Linked DNA regions of Homo sapiens: region 2 is linked to region 1. A link means that fine-mapping ties the variant in region 1 to the expression of a gene that starts in the linked region. Tissue or cell type: whole blood. Region 1 holds a variant in brackets; the other region holds the start of a gene. All regions are shown on one strand. Distances are from middle to middle.

Evidence for each region. PIP is the estimated chance that this variant, and not a neighbour inherited with it, causes the effect.
Region 2: STPG4 starts here. The variant in region 1 is fine-mapped to the expression of STPG4 in whole blood (TOPMed, PIP above 0.99).

Annotation. Positions count from the first base shown.
Region 1 is chr2:47,080,813-47,091,488 of GRCh38, forward strand. It overlaps STPG4 (sperm-tail PG-rich repeat containing 4), which reads right to left. Exons shown (of 7, transcript NM_001163561.2): 6 at 9,458-9,562; 7 at 6,179-6,318. The coding sequence ends at 6,196. Among named protein-coding and RNA genes, the nearest start is that of STPG4, 69 kb to the right of the region's middle. RefSeq lists enhancers at 1-705, 8,109-9,308. The variant T/C (reference allele first, on the strand shown) is at 5,567.
Region 2 is chr2:47,150,444-47,158,456 of GRCh38, forward strand. It overlaps STPG4 (sperm-tail PG-rich repeat containing 4), which reads right to left and starts at 4,865. Exons shown (of 7, transcript NM_001163561.2): 1 at 4,728-4,865; 2 at 2,514-2,573; 3 at 815-1,072. The coding sequence starts at 4,808. RefSeq lists an enhancer at 5,383-5,542.

The DNA of each region.
Region 1 (10,676 bases):
CTTTTCCAGTCCATCAGGCCTCCTGTGGCCTCAAAGAGCCATGCCTCCCATGCCCACCCCACACCCTGCAAGACGCCTTTCCAGAATGCCCACTCCTTGCTTGTGCCTTGTCCTTTAAGATCCTTCCCACGCCTTCTAGAAGTCCTCTGCCAACTGCCTCCCACCTTACGGGGCCCTTATGCTTTGGCAGAACACCCAGAGGCCAGCACAGCCCTGTGGGTTCTGCTTCTTGGGTTGGACCCCCACATTCCACATACCCGGGCTCAGCCACACGTGTGGGTGCCCCCATGAATGGAACGCCAAGCTGGGTCCCAGGAGGCGCCCCTGTGGCTGGGAGGCTTGAGGTACAAATGTGGAGTGAGGCCGCCATGTCCCCACCCACAGGCTGACCTTGGCCTTCTCTCTCTGCCCAGATGGACTTGCCCAAGCCATGCACCATCCCAGCTCTGTACCCTGGTGGTGTCTGGGAGGGGACTTTACACAGAAGCACAGCCCTCCTGAGCCTATTGTGGCTGTTCAAGGGCCTGTAATTGGTCCCAAAGTCATTATATTTTCTTAATAAAGTTCTACATATGTTTAATCCTATTCTATAAATTACTTTATAAATATGCATCTTTACATTAGGATCTTCTGGGACACACGGGCCATTGAACACAATTTTCAGAACTTTCATATTCATGTCTATGAAGATATTTCAGATAAAGCACTTTAAAAAGTCTTGAATAATGTGGCCACCAGAGATTTTATCTGGAGCCATAAGTACCATTTATAAAACAGGAGAGTTCTTCCCATCGCTGACCCCATTCTCCATAATGCAACTTTTAACTAGATTGCTTTTTAAGTGATCTACAAAGAGCGTGTTGTAACATCTAACATGAGCAACCATAAAATCAAACCTCTGGGGATGATTTATAAATCAGTTCTAAATTTCTTTACTACTTTTTTTTTTTTAATTATTTCATCAGATGATTTCCATCAGCATCCAACACCAGCAATGACTGAGGTTATTCAGGCCAAGAGATCTTCCCTAAATAGTATTTTGTGACTCAAAATAATCCAAAGAGCCTCCCCACACTTCAAGGTGACTTTCTACAAGGCTTCTATTTCCTGATAGATCATTGTGAGGGATCCAGAGAAAGGTTAGAAAGAGAAAGGTTAGAAAGGTAGTGTGGTAGGCTGAAATGTCCCCCCAAAAGTGTCCATGTTCTAACCCCCAGAACCTGTGAATATGTTACCTTACAGGGTAAAAGGGATTTGAAAATGTGATTGAATTACGAATCTTGAGATGAGGCCAGGCGAGGTGGCTCACGCCTGTAATCCCAGCACTTTGGAAGGCCAAGGCGGGTGGATCACTTGAGGTCAGGAGTTTGAGACCAGCCTGGCCAACATGGTGAAAACCCATCTCTAGTAAAAATACAAAAAATCAGCCAGGCGTGGTGGTGCCCACCTGTAATCCCAGCTACTTGGGAGGCTGAGGCAGGAGAATCACTTGAACCTGGGAGGTAGAGGTCTCAGTGAGCTGAAATCGCGCCACTGCACTCCAGCCTGGGTGACAAGAGTGAGACTCCATCTCAAAAATAAATAAATAAATAAATAAATAAATAAGAATCTTGAGATGAGGAGGTTATCCTGGATTATCCAGTGGGCCCAATATAACTACAACAGTCCTTATATAAGGCAGGCAGGAGGGTCAGAGTCAACAGGGGGAGATGTGATGACGGAAATGAGAGTGGAGCGATCGGAGGAAGGGCTGCAAGGAAAGAAATGCAAGTGGTCTCGAGAAGCAGAAGACAAGGAAGCCAACTCTCAGAGCTTCCAGAAGGAACCAGCCCTGTCAAAATCCTCACTTTGGCCAAATAAGAATGATTTTGGATTTCTGACCTCTAGACCTGTAAGGTAATAAAATTGTGTTGTTTTGAGCAACAAAGTCTGTGGTCATTTGTTACAGCAGCCACAAGAAATTCACACAGAGGGTTGAGTGAATGAGCTACCCCAGCACAGATGGGCACAAGGGCTCAGGGAGGCCTTTGTCAACCTGCGCTTTGGGGTATTCTGCAAGTCCAGCTCCCATGCCCAGCCCAGGAGGGGCTGAGGATTAGAAGCCTGAATAGGCGTGATCCTGCCTGGTATATTTCCAAGTGTCCACTCTGACGCTGTTCAATCGGGAAAGCTCCAGCAACTTCCCTCCTCCTTGATGGCGCTCAGTGACCATGCAGGGCCTTGGAGCCCTGGAACTTCAGAGCAGGGAAGAGGGGGGCAGCGGCCAGCCTTCATCAAGCCCTGCACTCCACCTGTGACCAGCACAGCTCCCAGCACATTGCCTTGCTGTCCCCCACGGCCTCCTCCCAGGCTGCTAGGCTGCAACGGGGTGAGGTGAATAGAATGCTTGTCAGTACCTGCCTCTGCCCCCACTCAGCCCACTCTGGTGACCAAAGACGCAGTGTCATAGCCTGAGTTAACTTCCTGCAGTCACCCTGTCTGCCTACAGTTTTCAGGAACTAAAGCACACTCCCACCAAAGCAGTCACGGTGCTAGCTTGCTCCCATGCTAGTTAGACCCCTTGGAGCCCCTACAACTGTCTAGAAGGATGGCACCTTTTTCTGGGCTCAAATATGGGCAAGGCTGTTGTTAACAAGACAATTGAGGGGTATGTACTGGGAGGCCTTCCCCTACAAGTCCATCCCCAGGAGCCCCTTCTCTTGCCACTCCGTCCTCCCTCCTCCCATCACCCATCTCCTGCTCCTTCCTTCCTCATGCCCCCACCACCTCCCAGCCTCCCATGGTTCCAGCCTTGGCCCCTCCTGCTCTCCAGAGTTGCCTTTTCTCTGAGGAGGCTGCAAATAAGCCCAGCCAGGGTCTGGGGCTTGGGCACTGGCCCCCAAAGCCCACCCAGCCCTGCTAAGAGGAGGGTGGGACGGGCAGGCCATGAGGCCCTGAATCCAGAGCCCAACCCCTTCCCTTTGAGCCTGGCAGGTTCTATGCGCCTGCAGCCCTGCCCTTGGCCAAAACCAAGGGGTCTGTAGGGACCCCAGCCAAGAATCAGACCAGCAAAAGCACATGGGTTCAGGCCCTTGCTTGTCCTTCTACCCAGAACAACTGTCACCTGGTCATGGTCAGGCACTAGCTTTCCCCAGAAAATCATGTAGGAGTGCAGTTGGCCGGCACCCCAGGGATCAGGAAGCTGAGATCAGCGAGAAGGAGGAGGGTCAGGGGCAAGGAACCCTATCTGGGCAAAAGCCCAGAGCAGGAAGAAGCATCTGCTGGGGGAAACGGAAGCAGCCCAGATGGCCCTGCAGAATCTTCTCCATGGGTTCCACCTCCAGGGGAAGTCTCTGCAGGCCCCCACCCTCTTCCTGCAAGCTGGTATAAACGCTTTCCCCTTATGATTCCGACAGGGTCCTCATTCTCTCCTGGGATGCCAGGGAGCTGCCCTCCACCCCAGTTACACGCACCTCACACGGGCCCCCGCAGCCGTGCCTGCAGCAAAGGTCTGGGCCCTTCTGACCACAGCTCGTGGCCCAGGCGCAGACCCCTGACCCAAGCTGGCCAACTGGATTCTCTCTCCTAGGAATTGGAGACTTGAACCAAGGAGGTGCCGGCTCTATTCTTTTAGAATGTTGACTCAGAAAGTGATATGAGGAGAAGCTGAGGTCGCCGCATTTGATCCTCTACATATAAAGAGGCAGTGAAAGTCAGCCTCCAGAGGGAGAAAAAAGCAGGCCTGAGAGAGGCGGAGGGGAGACCCTGAGGCCTGAGAGAGAGGAGGAAGGTAGACCAAGAGGCCTGAGAGAGGCGGAGGGCAGACCATGAGGCCTGAGAGAGGCGGAGGGCAGACCATGAGGCCTGAGAGAGGCAGAGGGGAGACCATGAGGCCTGAGAGAGGCGGAGGGCAGACCATGAGGCCTGAGAGAGGCAGAGGGGAGACCATGAGGCCTGAGAGGGTGAGAGAGTGAGAGCAAGAACACATACACACACACACACACACACACACACACACAGAGAGAGAGAGACAGAGAGAGAGAGAGACCTGAGAGAGGCAGAGGGGAGACCATGAGGCCTGAGAGACAGGAGGGAGACCATGAGGCCTGAGAGAGGCAGAGGGGAGACCATGAGGCCTGAGAGAGGCAGAGGGGAGACCATGAGGCCTGAGAGAGAGGAGGGAGACCATGAGGCCTGAGAGAGTGAGAGCAAGACACACACACACACACACACAGACACAGAGTGAGAGAGAGAGAGAGAGAGAGAGAGAGAGAGAGAGATGGTTCTTGCCAGCCCCTGGTTTACACTTTTGTCGATGAGATGCCTCTAAATCCTTACAATCTGACCCCCTTCTTCCCCTTGCTAGTTTGAGGGGTTTCTCTAACCTTTCTATCAATGAGCCTTGGCTAAGATACACGTGGCCATCTCCCGCCTCTATCTCATTCTAGAACAGCATCTCAGTGCCAGGTGCTGCCTGAGATGTTGCTTCCTAGAGAAAACACCCTCCATCAGAATGTCCAGCCATTACTTTCGATCATGCAGGGGACTTTAGCCCACTTGGAGAATAAAATTGGAAACTATCTTCCCTGCAGCCATCTTCTCATCAAAGGGGGACAGGAGACACTATCCTGAGACATCAGTCTGATCTTCCAAGTGTCTGTTTTCTGCTCCAAAGGAATGTAATTGTAGGGCGTTTATTCCACAAATGTGAATACATTCCAGGAGATGATGGCCTTCCCTTTCGCCCCTCAACAACCATTTTACAAGGGCCTGTAAGTCTAGGGCTTTGTTGCAGCCAAAAAGAGACATTCCCTTTGTTTGGAGCCCAATTCACAGGGCAGTTGTGGGAGGAGGGTAATGTGTGTGTGGGAGGAAGAGCGGGATTCTCGGGGGAACCAAAGCGGGGACCTAGAGAAGCCAGCATCATAGCAGTTAATGGGGAGGGGCTGGGCTATTTACTAAAATATAACAAAATGTAAGCATTTTATTAGCTCTTCATTTTATTAGCTTTTTAAAAAGACCCTTTGCAATGATTTATTAACCACTCTGGAATCTCCCTAGCCTTTGCTGAGACACCACTGTCATGCATAGGATCTGCCTAGCTAGAGCCCCTTGGGCAGAAAGCATGTGGTCCCAGCCTTCTGAGGACCCTCATCCCCTCCCACACCCTCACTTGCACCCTCCACTGTCATTGGTCCAGACTGCCTCTGTTCCCCTCCAGCAAATGTTTATTCCTGCCCTGGGCCTTTGCCCAGATAGGCTTCCCCACCCCTGACTCTTTCCTCTGCTGATCACAGCCTCCTGATACCTGGGGTGCCGGCCAATCTACCCTCCTCCGTGCGGGCCACCCCTTACCTCCCAGGCTCAGGCCACACTGCCTTCTCCTTCCTCTGAATGCCTGCGGCCTTCCTTGTCACAATGGCTCCTCTGTGCACCTGGTGCAATGATTTGGCAGCTTCCTGAAACTACAGCTCGTCTTCCTGTTGGAACTGCCATCCACGTGAGGGCAGCCCCTTAGCTTCAAACACAGGGCAACTGGCAGGAGATCCTTGGCACAGCTTGTATGGCCTTCCCCCAGCCGGCACTA[T/C]CCCACACTCCATTTCCGGCACAACCCTCCCCAAACTCAGTCACGTGCCTCATTCATCTTTGTTTCAAGACTCCACTCTCCAACCCCAGCTCAGCACCTTGCACATAGCAGATACTCAAAATGTTGTTGACTTGAAAACACAAATATTCATCAGGTTGAATCAATATTGTTCTTTTCAGGGGATTCAAAGAGAGAAAGAACCAGTTTTGGGGATGCTGTGACGCTCAGCTTGGCCTCTGATTAATGCTGACCGCCCACGGAAGTCTTCAAGAGGGCCATGAGGCCTTATAACCCTGATGCAGTTGAGTTCCAGCTAGAGAGAACAAGGCCACACAGAGCAGAGACCAGACATCTCAGGGCCTGTCTGAGAGCAGCCCGGGGCACAGTCTGTCCGAATCTGCTCTTTGGTAATAAGCATAGTGAACACATAATTTATTGCTCAGACCAGGACACTTTTGAGAGAGAACTGGTAATTATGCTGGGACTATCCCAGATAAGCAAGCAGGACAGTCACCTCAAGCAATCAATCATGTTTTGTGGCCAGACCCCTCCAAGGAATAGACAAAATACAGTTTTCTAAACATGAGAACGTACTAAACCTCAAAGTAGAGCTTGGTGCCAAGATCACTTTATTTTAAAAGCCAATTGTTGTTGTTGAAGAAAAGGCTATGCTCTTGGCCCATTTTGGCTATGGTCGGAGACTGCTTAGGGAATTGTCTTAAAGTTGTATATGCTCCTGGGCCTGGGGTTTTCTGAAAACAGAGCAGAAAACAGGGACTGATGAGACAGTGAAACCAAAACCCTGAGGCTCCTGTGCCTAGCCACTGGCTTGGATGTGGTGGACAAATTCCCCAAGGATGAAGACCAGGGCCACACCAGCCTGGGCTGAAGCCTGGCAGACCCTCGAATTGGAGCATGTCCTTGGAGCAGAGGCTGCTCCTGTTAGGGGCTCATCATGAGGCTGGAGGGGGGCTAACAGGCCAGGCCAAGCCAGGGGCCACCTAGAACCTGCTGGGAGAGGCGGGGTCACATGCCACCTGCATCTCAAGGCACACCTTCTCCCAAAGGGCACTTGGCCCAGGCAACTCCTATCCCGAGGAATGCCATCATCTTTCCCCCGGTGACCTCAGCCTAGCAAGAAGTGAGTGAAGAGAATTAATTCTGAACCTGATTGGTCTAACTCAAAAGCCCAAATCGCCTCTCAAACTCGGGTTGGGTTTTAGTTATTGACCCAGAGTTATTAAAGTAAGGTGTTTCTCAACCAGGGTCCATGGACCCCAGGGTCAGAAGTGTTCTCAAGGGATCCACGAGTTCTAATTTTTAAAAGTCATGTTTTTGTTTTTATAAAATGCTTGAACAAATATTATTATTTATTTATATATTTTTTTGAGACAGAGTCTCGCCCTGTTGCTAGGCTGGAGTGTAGTGCGCGCTATCTCGGCTCACTGCAATCTCTGCCTCCCGGGTTCAAGCGATTCTCCTGCCTCAGCCTCCCAAGTAGCTGGGATTACAGGTGCCCGCCACCACCACACCCAGCTAAATTTTTTTGTATTTTTAGTAGAGATGGGGTTTCACCATGTTGCCCAGGTTGGTCTTGATCTCCTGATCTCGTGATCCGCCCACCTCCGCCTCCTGAAGTGTTGGGATTACAGGTGTGAGCCACAGCACCCAGCCGGGGTTTTTTGTTTTTGTTTGTTTGTTTGTTTTTGGTTTTTTTTTGAGATACGGTCTCACTCTGTCATCCAGCATGGAGTGCAGTGGCAGGACCTCAGCTCACTGCAACCTCCACCTCCTGGGCTTAAGCGATTCTCATGCCTCAGCCACCTGAGTAGCTGGGATTACAGGGGTGCACCACCACACCTGGCCCTATTTTACCAATTATTTAAACAAAGCTTCTCTTCTGCAGTGATAAAATACAAATAAATGCCATTTTCATAGACTAAGACTTCAATTTCTTAGGTCGGTGTCTTCCCATGCTGGTGGCACATGCACATATTCTTGAAGTCCGAAGGCATTTGAGACACCAGTGTAATGGTTAAGATCAAGGGTTTTAGAGTCCAACAAGCCTGAGTTCCAGTCCTAGTCCCACAACCAACAGCTCAGTGGGAGCCTGGGCATGGGCTTCCCATACCTTACCCATCAAACGGGGCAGAGTACCTGCCTCTAGGGGGCTATGAGGCTCACTGGTGTCTCTCTAAGACAAAGAGGCTTGGACAGGCCAGCAGTTAGCTACCACCACTATTATTTTTTACTATTATCACCTACTTGTCATTTCCACCCTGCCCTGCAGTTTCTTATCTCTTCAGGAAACAGCAAGAGTGGAGCAGAGCAGTCAGTCCAGAGCACATGAGATCAGCTGCCTGCAGAAACCGCTTTAAATGACAGGATGTTTCCCTTGCCAAAAGCAGAGGAGCAGCCTGGAAATCTAATCAAGTCCTAGCCAAACGTCAAAGGAAGCTGAAGCCTTTATTATTGCTATTAATGAGGGTTCAAAGTGCATGTGGAGTCCTGGGAGGCCAGGGCAGAGAAAAGAAGGTTCAGGGGGCCTGCATCTCACAAGGCCACCCCTCGGGAGGCTGCTGGTTGGGGTTCAGCCACCTTGAGAACATCAAGCTCAGTTCCCCTCCCCTGATTTCACTGCCACCAACAACCTTCTGGTTGTCTTCAGCTTCCATGAAAATTTTCTATAAGGGAGAGACTCCACCAATCAGTGCTCCAGTCACCACGCCCGTATGGTGAATGCTTAGAAGTTAACACTACATCTTCTGTTGCCTGGGAGTTTGGTTAGCATGACTCAGCGTTCCTGAGAATGCCTGACCCCGTGGGCTCCGACAAACATGTTTCTGGATCATGGTGATGCCACTAAGGTGTGTGGATCCCCCAGCCTCCTGCTGTCAGTCTGTCTGCAATTTCACTGGCAGGGCCTCCCCATTATCACTCTAGATAAAGGCTGTGCTACCTTACTCTGCTGCCCAGCAGCTCTGGGGCAGAGATTCTGCAGGCCATGGCCTGGGATATAGGCTAAGGAGGGCTACGGGAGGTGATTTGCAGCCCAGGCAGTGGCAGTACTAGTCCTCTCCTACCCACCGCTCCAACTTCTCCTTCTAGCCCCTTGACTCCCCTGGGTGGGCCCATTTTCTTACAGGCAGAATTTGTATTTCTGTTTCCCCAGCCATCTCAAATGAGTCTACATACCAGCAAGTCTTGGGGACTTTCAGACCGTATTGCAGACTGAAAGCAACAAAGCTATGGGAATTAAAACTGTCTTTTGACATTAAAAAAAAAAAATCCACTGTTGGTAAACTTCACATTATGCTTTTATAATCTTTCCTGGTCTTCTCTAGGTTTGGAGGAGTCCTGTATGCTCCCAGGATCCACTTTCTTTGTATCTCTCCATGGACTTGAGCCTCTTCCCTGTCTGTCCTGAGTTTTTGGGGGTGGGGTGATCGCTAATGCCTTAATGGTCCCATTTGGGTCAATAAAAATGTTTCTGCTTCAAATTTTGCTTCCTTGGGCTCCCAGAAGCCACACACACAGAGAACAGCCATTCTGGCTGGCAGGAGGCAGCCACTGCAGGTACCCCCAACAAAGCATCTAGTTGGTAACATTGATGGCTGATTAATGTGCTGCTTCCAACTGGCCCCATAATTCAGCCACAGATTTTGGGCCTGGAGTCACTCTGAACCTGAAGTTGGTTGAGAACATCCAGGTATTTGAGGATTTCACTCCTGATTGCCTTGACAGGCAACTGTATCTACCAGAACTGTACACACATGATCATTCCCCCATCTCACCACCACCCCGCACCTCCTACACACATAGAAACAGAAAACCTACCACCATAACCATACCCCTAGGGGTGGGGGGCGATCTGTCTTTCCGAATACTTACTGAACAGCTGGGCAAGAATCGAGGGACTCTGGATTGAAAACAAGAAGTGACAGAGCTTGTTGGAGGCATTTTCACATTATAATGACCTGGACCAGGGCCTTCATGCTATTGAACATTTAAAAAATTGCTTCATTATTATTGTACATTTGATATATTTTAAGGCTTTATTTGCCTTCTACAAATAAACATATGAATCACTGTGATATAGTAGAAAAATCCCATATTTGGTCTCGAGAGATCTCTTTAAGGTGTGAGCTGGGACAAGTCATTGTGAAACGGGAGTAACTCCTGCCTCACCTTCCTTGTGCACGATGGTGAGGAGTGAAGGAACGTTAGGTGAGCAGTACCTGCCTCCCTTCTCCCTGCCAGGGTCCCTGATGCCCCCAGGCTCCCAGCCCACACTCAGGTCCCCCGTTCCCTCACAGCAGCATGCATGCCTCATGCCGTACTTCTCCCTCTGACTGTTAAAGGTGACTTGCTGCTCCAAGCTGTTAGCTTTATAAAAATGCTTATTCTTTCATATAAATGTCATATATGTTATCTCAGTCCAAAAAAGTATTCATAGCAATTCACTGATATAAGCACAATGCTATGAGATAAACATAAATAGGTGAACACAATTTTAAAAAGACAATCACTCCAGTAGGAAAATTAGCAACAGGCCATTCATGAAGAGGATATACAAACGTTCAATGAGCAAACTTTGAGGAAGGAGGGCTTTAACCTCATTTATAACCAAATACATTCTAATTTAAAAAACAAACTTCCTTTTTTTCCCACGGGGTGAGGGGAAGGGGGTTCTAAAAATTAAAACAGGTTAAGAAAGAACAGAGAGAGGAAGGAAGAAAGGGAGGGAGAAAAGGAAGGAAAGAAGGAAGGGAAGGGAGGGAGGGAGGGAGGGAGGGGAAGGAAGGAGAGAGGGAAAGAAGGAAGCCAAAGCTTTAACAACAAGCACAAGCACTCCTTATGATGCTGGCAGAAGCATAAATTCGCTCAGCCTTTCCAGAGTGCAATCTGGCAAGATATGAAACAGCTTAAAACATATATGCCTATCCAGAGAGGGAGAAAGAAGAAAGGAGAGTGGTTATTGGTTGTTGCAGGAAACCAGGAGACAAATGATGAGTCTTCAGCCTAGAATGTGGCAGGGAAAATGGGAATAGCCCAAACACCACACTGGATAATGCTAACATGATGTTCATCTTTTTTTTCCCCTAGTAAT
Region 2 (8,013 bases), 68 kb after region 1:
AACTGGTGGAGCTGAGAGTAGAAGCTGACCCTCCTGGGACCACATGCTCACTTCTTTTCTTTTTTTTTTTAATTAAAAAAAATATTTTTAGAGACAGCATGTCACTCTGTCACCCAGGCTGGGGTACAGTCATATAATCATAGCTCACTGCAGCCTCAAACTCCCAGGCTCAAGGGATCCTCCTGCCCTGGCTTCCCAAGTAGCTATTTTTTTTTTTTTTTTAAAGAGTTGAGGGCTTGTTATATTGCCCGGGCTGATCTACAACACCTGGCCTCAAGTGATCCTCCCACCTCAGCTTCCAGAGTAGTTGGGACCACAGGCATGCACTACTACACCCGGCTATTTTTCTTTATTTTTTGTAGAGATGGGTCATTTCTATAAGAAAAGTTTTTAAAAGCTTCCCTGTGGTATGTAGTTATATTTATGCTCTAATAAGGATACTCCCCGAGAGGCAGGGTTTTCTCTTTAAAAGAAGAGGGTTCACCACATATACTGCTTGAAGAGATAAGAGCATAGCCCAATGACAGATAAGATCCCAGGTGCTCTCCAGGCTAGGGGAATCCCACCAAGAGTTGCCCAAGAGGAAAACATTTCTCCCCATGTACTCCCCTTAGGTTAAGAAGATGTTATAGGGAAAAATCTTACTGGAAACATTTGCAAATCAGGCAGTCCTTGTTTGATTTCTACGGGAAATAAGACATCTTAAAGGTTTTCCATTTCTCCTGGGGGAAGATATACTCTACGTATAAAAATACTTTCCTCAGGGGCTCTTAGTAGCTTTCCCACACAAAGCAATCTGCCAGTAGCGCTTTACCTGATCTTTGTCAACTAGTGTGCTGGGGCTTGGCCGTGGTTTGTCTTTGAATGAGTAAGTAGCCACTTGCTTCTTTAACAGGTCCAGGAAGTCAGGAGGCATATACTGCGGAAGATCATTTAGGACTGGATTGTTTCTTTGCACAAGAGGTGGCTTTTTCCTTCCTTCGTTTTTAAAATTGTAGGTTGCTATCACTGGATTTAATAGGGATTCTTCAATAAAAGTTTTCAAGTGGTAAGTGCCAGGTATAGGAGTATCCTGTGGAAAATTGACATCAGTTTTAAGATTGTGTAAACATGTAACTTCTCCTAAAACACCATTCTTGGATGGGAAGCTCCCAAGTAACATCTCTCTTTGTTTTCAAGTTTAATGAAATTATATCAAATACAGTAAACACTCTTGACAGAAGAGTATTTCAAAATCATGATTATTTCCTTTCTGAAATAATTGCTGAATTAAAGCAAACGGGTTAGAGTTGAAATTTAACTTTTTTTTTTTTTTGAGACAGAGTCCCACTCTGTCACCCAGGCTGGAGTGCAGTGGCACAATCTAGGCTCACTGCAAGCTCCGCCTCCCAGGTTCATGCCATTCTCCTGCCTCAGCCTCCCAAGTAGCTGGGACTACAGGCATCAGCCACTACGCCCGGCTAGTTTTTTGTTTTGTTTTTTTTTTTTTTTTTGTATTTTTAGTAGAGACAGGGTTTCACTGTGTTAGCCAGGATGGTCTAGATCTCCTGACCTTGTGATCCGCCCGCCTTGGCATCCCAAAGTGCTGGGATTACAGGCGTGAGCCACCAGGCCCGGCCGAAATTTAAGTTTTTAAAAGGCAACTTCGGTGATTCAACTTTGGGATTCAAGCTTGACTATGAATTTCAGACCTCTAGTGAGACCACTCAGGATAGTCTCTTGGCTAACTAGAAGCTATCCTACATCTGCTTAGCCAATGTAGGATGTTTCTCTCTAGCCCTCAAGTGGGAAGCTGAAGGATAATGACATGACACCAGGATAAACTGGCAGAGCATATGGCCTAGTTAGTCCAATAAGAGGTTTGGTACTTTCAAATTACAACCAGTGTGGCTGAATGGCCAGAATTGAACGTTTAGTCACTGCTGCTTTTGTGGCCATCTTTCCACTGAGCACTCAGCTCAGTTCTGCCTTTAAAATTACTGCAATTCCAAGAAGGCTTTGACCCATGAAGTCCCTCTATTATTGAAGGGCATTGACAGAAAATATGTCTGTAATATAGAAACTCTCTGGTGAGGGGGATCTTCTGGTCATTTTTCTTCCATATATTACCATTTTGCTTTCATATATTGACCATATTAAGAACCATTTGCAGAAGGTCTTTACCATATAAGATAAAAACTGAAACCAAAACACCTTTCCAGAATGTATGCTTTTTTTGTTTTGCAATCTCACCCAGATCATAAGAGCATAGGTTAGCCTTATCTAGATATTCTGTAAAGCACCTAGATTTCTAGAATTGTTTAACTTTCCCAAGCTTCTATTGCATTCAAAATTAAAAGTTAGTTTCTTATTCATATGCTGACACTAAAATTTTAAGTATGACATGAGGTCCATGCAGATCTGAACAATCACTGTTTTCTTACAATTTAGTGTTAGTCTTAAAAGCTATAATTGATTAAAATATTAATGGAATAGGAATAATGTGAATAGGAAAGACTGAACAATGTACATACTGTTAATGCTATTCTCCACCATCCTTCTCTTTCAAAAGAGGAAGTCTTTTGGGCTGGTTTCTGTTAACAAACACAAAGTATGCTTATTCATTTGAGAGGTGATCCCTTGAAATTAAATATAATTTATAAAACATTTGCTTGAAGAAATTCACACCCATACCCAACTGATATGTCTTCATTAAAATAAAAGCTACATAATAATAAATTTGCCCATATTTCCTTAAATTGTTATTTTATGGTCTTAAGTCCTTTCAAATAACTAAATTCCCTTTGATAAAATTAGAGTAATAAACACCCCCATCTCACAGAGATGTTGTAAGTATCTTAAATGTGACAAAATGTGGTGTCCTTAGGAAGAAAAGAGTTAGGCTTGAAGCCAGACCGACTTAGGCTGGAACTCAGCTCTGCCACTTACCAGCTAGGTGCACTGGGTGAGTTACCCAACCCTCGTGCTTCCTCACAGTAGTATAAAAATAAGGCACTACCAGAGTTGGCATGAGAATAAAGCATTGTATGCCAGATGTGGTGGCTCACGCCTGTAATCTCAGCACTTTGGGAGGCCAAGTTGGGTGGATCTCTTGAGGCCAGGAGTTTAAGACCAGCCTGGCCAACATGTTGAAACCCTATCTGTACTAAAAATACAAAAACATTAGCTGGGCATGGTGGCACATGCCTGTAATCCCTCCTCAGAAGGCTGTAATCCCTACTCATGAGGCTGAGGCACGAGAATCACTTGAACTCCGTAGGCAGAGGTTGCAGTGGGCCGAGATCACATCACTGCAACTCCAGCCTGGGCGACAAAGCAAGAAGCCACCTCAGGGGGAAAAAAAAGACTAAGGCATTGTACTTATAAAGACTTGCATATACAATCAGTGCTTAATAAATGGTAGCTTTAATTTTTAACATCCCATTTGCCAAGTTAAGAAGCTGATTATTTTGGTATTCCTCAGTTTCCAAGGAAGCTTTTGTCTTCATATTTAGTACTCTATACCCATTCATCCATTATTATTTCATATTTATTTCAGCCCATTGTCCACAGAACACAACCGTTTAGTATATTGCTGTTTGTCCTAGATAAAATCATTAAAATGTTGAGTTCTCCTTTCATTTATAATGCCTTTATTACTATAAAATATAGGTCATCAAGCAGGACTGCATTAAAAGTAATAATCAGTAAAACTGATATAATTCATTCTTCCTGTCTAGTAACTTAAATCTACTGTACTTATGAGTACCACTGGGCTTTATTTTATTATGAAATATGTTAATTTCTTTAAAAAACATTTTCTCATGACACTGCTAAAGCTGAGCTTCTTCTTTGATACTTCTTCGCGAGATTTATGTTGAATCTTCTCTGTTGCACTTTTATAGTCACAGAAATACAACTTTCTCAGGCAGGTCAAGACAGGCCTCCCACCCCTACCCCAGAATAAGGAAAATGAGATGGGAAGGAGAGAGAAGTAAACGCGATCAATCTAATGGAAGACAATTGGCAGCTGCTGTTTTGTTTTGCCCAAGACAGGTGATCTAAATTCCATCTATCTACCACTTTAAATTCACTCTAAGGGGAAAGATAAAAGATTAGGTTAAACAACCCTCACCCACATTTATTTTAAAATGTAACAAAGGCCAGCCATGGCGGTGCATGCCTGTAATCCCAGCTACGCGGGAGGCTGAGGCAGGAGAATCCCTTGAACCCGGGAGGCGGAGGTTGCAGTGAGCCGAGATCACACCGCTGCACTCCTGCCTGGGTGACAGAGCGAGACTCTAAAAGAAAAACGTAGCAAAAGTAGCTTCAAATATTTTTATAAATATTAAAGTAGGAGGCGGAGCAAAACGTGTCTAGTAAAACTACAGAAGGAAAAACCCAGTCTTCCGGCAGATGGAGCGGAAAGGGAAAGAAATCCAATCACCATATTAAAGCAGTTGTCCAGTTTAATTAGTAGTGGGAAGAAGGGAAAAATACAGAAAACAAAGGGCGAAGGAGAAGGAAAAGGGAAGAAGCAAGGGGAAAAGAAATAAAACAAAGGAAATGTCCAATAAAGACCAGGAAGGAAGGTCCGCAGGTGGAGACGTGCGTGAGGGCAGGGAGAGAAGGGTAGGAAGAGGGAACGAGAGCGGCACGAAGGCCTGGGATTAGAGAGCGGTGGGAAAAGGGTAGTGGGCCTGGTGAGGGGAGCAGGAGCCAGGCCGGCAAGGGGCAGGCCATCTTACCGAAGCTGTGATGAATGATTCTCCACCCACCAGGTCTTCCCTTATTGAGGTGGAAGCGGTGGCGACGGCTGGCTGGTCCATGGTGGCCTCCTCTCTCTCTAGGCTGAACCTGAGCTCCGGTTGCTAGGAGGCGGGTGTGGCCCGTGGGCTCCCGAGCGCGCGCGCCTGGGACCGCTCCGGGGGACCCGCCAGGTTTGTCTTTAGTGCTGCAGGGAAGGGAAGCGGGCACGCACTTTGAGGTCCCGCGCGAAGAACTGCGCAGAGGAAAACCCTCGAAAAGAGACGGTTATGAAAGCTTGTGAGAAGAAAATCTAGAGGGCTCTGGAGTTGCTAGAGAGCCCTCGGGTAAGGATCTGCGAAAAGGGAGGCTTGTTAAGGGCTTGAGCGTACCCACAATCTCCATTAGTTCCCTTCCAATCCACCACCAATCGCACACCCCAGACAGGGAGGCAGTGTGCTTGGTAGGCATACTTAAGAGAAATCTGCCTTAGCACCCACTTTCTAAGATTGTTTCTAAGCTCCTCCAAATAGAAACTCTGGGGCTGACTTCTCTTGCTTCTGACTTGCAGAGTGGAGTGAGCACCAGACACAGCCGGTTTCACTAGCTGTGAAACCACAGACCACCCCATTCTTCTCAGTATAGACCCTTTTTATTGTCAGCCTCTCTAGGCTGTAGCTTCTTCTTAACCTAGGAACATTCTCACCTTTAAAAACAAACCCTCCACAACCTTAATTTCATTTTATACAGTACCTACTGTATTCCAGGGACTTCACACACATTAGTCTCATTTAATCTTCATACCAACCCTACAAAGTAGGTATTAGTTTCATTTTCTGGATGAGGAAACAAAGGTTTCCTTGGACGTTTAGCACAGTTCACTCAGCATCACACACAAATGGCAGAACCAGAATTAAAATCCAGACCTGACTCTAGAGCTCCACTGCCCTATACCATGAAGTTTCTGCTTCCCTTTACAAACTTTCAAGAGTAATATGGACTCTTTTCTCACTTCCCATACTTTCCTTAAAACATCTTAATCTGGCCTGCACACAGCTTTTAATTAAAATTGCACCTGAACTCACCAGGGATCCAAGTGCCAAATCCAGTGGGGATTTTCAGCTCTTATGAAACTTGGCCTTCAATTTTCATTGCTGCATTGATTATTCCCTCATTCTTGAATCACTCTCCTCCCTTGACTACCAGGACTTGGACGCTGGTTGCATATAATGACTTATTCTGTGCTTATTTCCTTGTCTATAGAGAAGGGGATAATAAAATTGGTACCTATCCACATAGGTTATAAAAAAGATTAACTCGAACTGTTCACAACCATGTCTGGCACAGTGCAGTCAGTAAATGTGAGCTGTCATTACCTTTAGGACAAAAGCAACATTTACAATCCAGTCTCTCGCTTCTCTCTTTTTTTTTGAAACGAAGTCTCACTCTGTTGCCCAGGCTGGAGTGCAGTGGCGCGATCTCACTACAACCTCGGCCGCCCGCCACCATGCCAGCTAATTTTTGTATTTTTAGTAGAGACGGGGTTTCACCATATTTGTCAGGCTGGTCTCGAACTCCTGACCTCATGATCCACCCACCTCGGTCCCCCAAAGTGTTGGGATTACAGGTTGAGCCACCACACCCGGCCACTTCTCTTATTAGGATGGCATGCTCTGCTGTATCATGCTTGCAAAAACCCCAAACATGCCATCTTCACATTTCTATTTGTCTCCACATATGCTAGCTCTTCTGCATGAAATGCTATTCTTTTCTTTGACCACCTGGAAAATCTCAAGGGTCAGCTCCTCTGAGTAGACCTCTAAGCCTAATCCACTAAGTCCCAAAGGACCCTGTGCCTATCATTGTTGGAAGATTCATTTTATGACAAATCGTTTCTCCTCTAATTTTAAACACCCAAAACACGGTTTTTAATTGACCCCTTTGAACACAAGGACTAAAATATTTGTTGAATAAACCACTGACTAGTTTTCCCCTCTAAGTAAATCCAAGACTAGATTACAGCAGTGCTTTTCAAAAATTGATATGCATACAAAATATCTGATGATCTTGTTAAAAAAACAGATTGATTCCAATTCTGGGGCAGGACCTAAGATTCTGCATTTCCAACAAGCTCCTGGGTGATTCTGTAGGTGACTTTTTGAGGAGCAAGAGACTAGAGGACTTCATCTAGTTTCTTAAAATACTGGGATTCTAAATTCATTTAACATAGCCTTGAAAAAAAAAACAGGCACTAGGTTTAAAATGAACAACTGAAATTAGAAAGTGAAGAGGCAATACCAAAGTTCTCACAAATGTTAAGAGATTAATCAAGTCCATTCCCTGTGCCTCATTTCATTTTCTTATTTTGGCTGAGCCTGTAAAACTGGCTCAGCAGACTAGGGACTGGTACCCTCGAGACTAAAAGAATATGAAAGGTACAGAGAAGTCCAGAAACCCATACAAGGTGTGACATTAGAGATGGGAACATCTAGATGAGAAAATAGTTTAAGTATCTCAAAAATAGAAACAGCATGGGTCAATGATTTCAAGGACTATCCACAAAGCAGATTAAGCACGTAGGATAAACATAGTGTTCCTTTAAGAAAACATTATCTTATATAGTATCACTGAGATTTATTTCCAGATTATTGTAAGTTTCAAAAAGGGGGAGAGGCATTTCTCTTGAGAATACATATCTATAATTGAGCTCAACAGTGCCTCTGTTACATATCAGATCTTTAAAATTGTTGCCGTCTTCTAAAAATTTTAGGAAAATACGTTACACCAAGGGTGATATTTAACTGCAATAGTTGTTTATTGGGAGAATCATCTGAGAGCAAACATGCCAGACAGTATTATGGTTGGTACAATTACCAAAATCCTATTAATATAACACTAATAGTATGGTTAAGACTTGAAGGTGGGGCTGGGCGAGGTGGCTCACACCTGTAATCTCAGTACTTTGGGAGGCCGAGGTGGGCGGATCACAAGGTCAGGAGTTTGAGACCAGCCTGGCCAACATAGTAAAACCCTGTCTCTTCTAAAAATACAAAAAATTAACTGGGCGTGGTGGCGGGCGCCTGTAATCCCAGCTACTCGGGAGGCTGACGCAGAATTGCTTGAACCTGGGAGGCAGAAGCTGCAGTGAGCCGAGATTGCGCCACTGCACTCCAGCCCAGACAACAGTGCTAGAGTCCATCTAAAAAAAACAAAAACAAAAACAAAAACACAACTTGAAGGTGATATCACAGTCCTGGGTTCCAATAGGATTATGTTGTAGGAAGCATT